2 separate regions of the Homo sapiens genome follow, and region 2 is linked to region 1. Evidence: fine-mapped expression QTL. Tissue or cell type: whole blood. Region 1 holds a variant in brackets; the other region holds the start of a gene. All regions are shown on one strand. Distances are between the middles of the regions.

What was found. PIP is the estimated chance that this variant, and not a neighbour inherited with it, causes the effect.
Region 2: it holds the start of FGL2, and the variant in region 1 is fine-mapped to the expression of FGL2 in whole blood (TOPMed, PIP 0.99).

What each region holds. Positions count from the first base shown.
Region 1 is chr7:77,156,069-77,158,758 of GRCh38, reverse strand. The region is part of intron 1 of CCDC146 (coiled-coil domain containing 146); the gene reads right to left. All of the region lies in intron 1 of LOC124901678 (a long non-coding RNA gene), which reads left to right. Among named protein-coding and RNA genes, the nearest start is that of CCDC146, 35 kb to the right of the region's middle. The variant T/A (reference allele first, on the strand shown) is at 1,128.
Region 2 is chr7:77,198,318-77,201,007 of GRCh38, reverse strand. It overlaps FGL2 (fibrinogen like 2), which reads left to right and starts at 1,189. Exons shown (of 2, transcript NM_006682.3): 1 at 1,189-1,827. The coding sequence starts at 1,215. All of the region lies in intron 2 of CCDC146 (coiled-coil domain containing 146), which reads right to left. RefSeq lists a silencer at 1,489-1,598.

The sequences.
Region 1 (2,690 bases):
ATCACGAGGTCAGAAGTTAGAGACCAGCCTGGCCAACATGGTGAAACCCCGTCTCTACTAAAAATACAAAAATTAGCCGGGCATGGTGGTGGGCGCCTGTAATCCCAGCTACTCAGGAGGCTGAGGCAGGAGAATCGTTTGAACCTGGAAGGCAGAGGTTGCAGTGAGCCGAGATAGCGCCACTGCACTCCAGCCTGGGCAACAGAGTGAAACTCTGTCTCAAAACAAAAAACAAAAAAAAACAATAAATATCCAAAGACAGTTAATATATAGGATTGCAAAGCCCATTGTATTAATAGTTCCATATTGCAGGCAATATGATTGACAGCTGTAAATAAAATAATAGAATAAAGTATATTCTCAGGCTACGGTGATATGAACAGAGAATGTTTAATATAACACCTTAAATTCCTGGCATAGGAAGAACTACATAGCCATCAGGTATGGTAATTCTAGAGACTTATATCTCCAGAATGCCTAAATCAATTAAATAAATATTTATTGAGTTTTCCTATAAAGAATTTACAAATATGCAAACAATGTATAATCTGAAGAGAAAGTAAGGCAGGGAAAGAACTAGTTCTCTGTCACATAAGCTGAGGTAAAATAAGCCCAAATAAAAAGCAACGTTCTTAGGAGAGTAGATAGGGCTGAAAAAGTAACTGGTAGCCTGGAATTTGGGACTTGAACTCTAGGCATTGGGAGCCATGGCAGAGTTGTAAAGATATTGCTGACAATATTGCTGAGAAGAATGGCTTGGAAAATGTGTGAATTTAGAGGCAAGGAAACAATCTGGAGGCTGGGACCCAGCCACTGTGCTATGGGTAGGAGATAGGTACCATGGTGAGCAAGACCAGACAAGGTTCCTGACCTTAGGGGACGCAGAGACTGGCAGCAAGACAAGTTAATCAAAAAATCACAGACATAAAATTCTAAACGTTTTAACTGAAATTGGTGCTATGATAACTTGGACCACAGAAACAGGGTGGCCACACACTGCACACTTACAGGGAGCACCACTGGCATAGCAAGTTCTGCAGAGAAGCAGCCCCCACTGGAAGGAGGCAAGGCAGTACCATGAGATGCTGTAGGAGTCTGAAGAGAAGAGGATGTGGCCTTAAGGGGAT[T/A]TTAAGAAAGCAGAAGACATGAATAAGCCAAAATAGGAAGCTTCACAAAGAATAATTAAGCAATAAACATTGCAGGGTACCCCTTGTTTTGTAATACACATCAGTAATTCCTCTTCTTCAAATGAAACATAGGTGATCATCATTTTGTTTTGATTTTGAATTATTAAGGAAACATTTCTAGATAGTTACAAGGAGCATGTGTAAAAACCAAATACTGCATGCTCCAGAGAATGGGGCAGGATACACAAACAATGTGACTTTTGGACAATAAAATGGCAATGCTTCAAGAAAGCTGTAGCAGAAAACCACACGGTCTTTCAATATTACTCATCATTGAACAAGCACAGGTTTTGCTCATTTTAGAAACAGCAGGGTGTAATGTAAAGTTGAACATGATTTATTTCTCTCCTAGTCCCACACAGAACCTGAGTGTTCTTTTTTGTGACTTGGCTCTTCTGACTGCCCTGAAGATAAGATTGGGTGCTCCTTCCCCCAGCAGCCCATTGCTCTACAAGGTTAATTACAACATGTTTCTACAGGAACTCAGAGCTGACCCCTTGGAGGAAGGGAGAACTCTGGGACACTTCCATTTTTTTGTTTTGTTTTGTTTTAGTTTCCTAACATGTTAAAAAACATAGAAACTTCAAAACAGGGTTACAAAAATTGTGGTATAAAGTTGTATGACAAGTGCCTTCAATTCTGTCAGTGTATCTCTGGTAATTATATGTATATTATCTTTTGGAGATAACATAAAAAGTCTATAAAATTTAAGGCTCATCCTATGGGGCCTCCGGTCCACTATATGACAGGCTCAGAATATTGGGCAGCCAATCTGACATGAGGCATACCTCAGATCCATTTAATGGACAACAACAACAACAAAATCAGATGGAACTAACTTAATAGTCCTAAAAGCCACAGATAAAATGATTGCAGTTATTCCTGCCTAGATTTTATATTCTAAGTACAATTATACAATGCTCATTTTTACCATACAAAGACAATGTTAGACTTGAAACATTTTTTAAGATATAGATACATATTTTATTTTATTTATTTTTATTTTTGTGGGTACATAGTAGGTATATATATTTATGGAGATGCTTTTTTTAAAAAAGAAAGTAAAAATGTTATTCAAAGACCCAACAAATCAAATCACAACATTTTTTTTTTTCCTAAAAGGAATGATAAAGAGGACTTTCGAAAAAAGAATCCTGAAAAGAAAAGAGTCCTACAGGAAAAACAAAAAGAATCTTAAAGGAAAAATGAAAACTCTTGCAGTAAATATGTACAGATAAAAATTGCCTCATAATTGAAGTGTTAAAGTAACAATGGGGTTTGAACTACCTTCAATTAAAACCACACAAACGCACAAATAGCAAAACTCTGAAAGAAAGCTTCAAGTGCATATCTGGCCTTTAAAGTTAATGTTCAGACATGTTAAACAGTTACCTCTTAGATTATACGCATGTGTAATCCATGAGGAATCTGTTAATTGCAACATGATGGTGGAGAACCCAAGTCTCTATTACAGAATCAGCACCCCTCCCGAGGATGGAAGGG
Region 2 (2,690 bases), 42 kb before region 1:
TCATAGGAAATCAGGTTAAAGACATAAATATGAGATAGGCTACAGAGTGTTTTAAGTAATACAATAAAACATTTAGATTTTTGCCCATGTCAGTCATTTTGAAATTATTTTTAAAGCAAAAAAACCCTTTTTAAACAAGAAATCTTATGAGATGTCAATATGCAAAACAAATTAAAAGGAGGTGGTTTCTCTAACTGAAGCTGTTCCTCTTTCCTGCCTTCAGCCTCTGAAGAGAAAGTTAGAAAACTATTATCATTAATGCTACATGTTTTGAACAAGCTGATATACCAAGTGGCCCAGAGAGCAGGTAGAAGAACCAGCGTGGAGACAGAAAGCAAGAGGCCCGCCTGCCAGGGCTACCTGCAGAAAGAAAGGGCAAAGATGCTGTAGGCAAGAGAAGTTCAGGACAGACACTGGCATAGCTCAAAGATTCACATTTGAGCAGCTGTGGAAGATGACAGTACAATTACCAAAATGTCGAAGGGCAAAGGAGGCAGCTACTGGTTTTGATGAAAGACAATTATGTCCTTTTAAATGGGTCTTAGACATTTAGACATTAATATACACTATGCTACGGACAAAGGAATAGAAAGTAGCACTTTTTTCTCCACTAGTTTTCTTCTCTTTTTCAAGTAGATGAAGCAAAAGTCAACTGCAATAGTCAGAAAGCTGTACTTTGTTACACTTAGAAACTTCTAAAAGTGCTTAAGATTTCACCTGAAAGTCCAACATGAAGAAAATACAGGCTCCCCAATGCCCCATTCTAAGAAGGAAAAAGGACCATTTTCATTTTAGTAACGTTTCTGTTCTATAGACAGTTTGGATAACTAGCTCTTACTTTTTATCTTTAAAAACTGTTTTTCCAGTGAAGTTACGTATAATTATTTACTTCAAGCGTAAGTATACCAAATTACTTTAGAAATGCAAGACTTTTCTTATACTTCATAAAATACATTATGAAAGTGAATCTTGTTGGCTGTGTACATTTGACTATAATAATTTCAATGCATATTATTTCTATTGAGAGTAAGTTACAGTTTTTGGCAAACTGCGTTTGATGAGGGCTATCTCCTCTTCCTGTGCGTTTCTAAAACTTGTGATGCAAACGCTCCCACCCTTTCCTGGGAACACAGAAAGCCTGACTCAGGCAGCTGCCGCTATTAAAGCAGCTCCAGCCCTGCGCACTCCCTGCTGGGGTGAGCAGCACTGTAAAGATGAAGCTGGCTAACTGGTACTGGCTGAGCTCAGCTGTTCTTGCCACTTACGGTTTTTTGGTTGTGGCAAACAATGAAACAGAGGAAATTAAAGATGAAAGAGCAAAGGATGTCTGCCCAGTGAGACTAGAAAGCAGAGGGAAATGCGAAGAGGCAGGGGAGTGCCCCTACCAGGTAAGCCTGCCCCCCTTGACTATTCAGCTCCCGAAGCAATTCAGCAGGATCGAGGAGGTGTTCAAAGAAGTCCAAAACCTCAAGGAAATCGTAAATAGTCTAAAGAAATCTTGCCAAGACTGCAAGCTGCAGGCTGATGACAACGGAGACCCAGGCAGAAACGGACTGTTGTTACCCAGTACAGGAGCCCCGGGAGAGGTTGGTGATAACAGAGTTAGAGAATTAGAGAGTGAGGTTAACAAGCTGTCCTCTGAGCTAAAGAATGCCAAAGAGGAGATCAATGTACTTCATGGTCGCCTGGAGAAGCTGAATCTTGTAAATATGAACAACATAGAAAATTATGTTGACAGCAAAGTGGCAAATCTAACATTTGTTGTCAATAGTTTGGATGGCAAATGTTCAAAGTGTCCCAGCCAAGAACAAATACAGTCACGTCCAGGTATGTATAATAATGTTTTCTTATCATATGTTCATAAATGTTATACAGCTAGAGAGTATCTATAAACATTAACCTGAGTCAGTAAGTTAAATAGATGACAGATTAAGTCTTTTATTTATCAAGGTGCACAGGAAAAAATAAATATCTTCTCAAATATGACCACATAAATATGACCTAATTACAAAAATCATAGTTAGTTCTGTATCCACTGGAAGTCACTTTCAATTTTAAGATCTTATTTGTTAATGCCAGACCTACTTGCAAGCAGAAGTAGAGAGAATTTCTTGATGTTTTAGTGCATTTAACTTGTCTCTTCAATGAGGTGTTTGAAAACAATAAAGATAAGGCGATGTTCACAATTGTGCCTTGTTTGTTGGAAATCAGTTTTTCTTGTGATTGACTGACTGCCGCTTCTCATGGCTAAAGAGGTCTTTGAAAGATTTTAGCAAGTAATCTAGTTCTTAATCCCAAATATCTGGAGAAAATGGGAGAGTTTACAGATGGAATAAAAGCAGTTTCATATGTGTGCACAAATTTTTGCTTTGAGACCTAGTGGCACAAAAAATATTTTAAGGGGAGAGTTTTAGCATGCCACTAAGGGAAGGTATTCATATTTCTTTCTCTTTTACCTGAAGTTAGAATTCAAGCAGATAGAAGTAGAACCCATCCTCACCATCCAAATTACTTGAATTAACTTTAATAAATACATGTGAAATTCCACAGACTTAATCGCCTACTCCACCCACGAACTAACAGTGGTATTGACTCTCCAAACCTTGGCTTTTCACCTGAGTCACTGGGACCACTGTTGCTGACTGTCTCATACTTTGGAAAGCCATCTCCGCATTTGGACCTCTACTTAC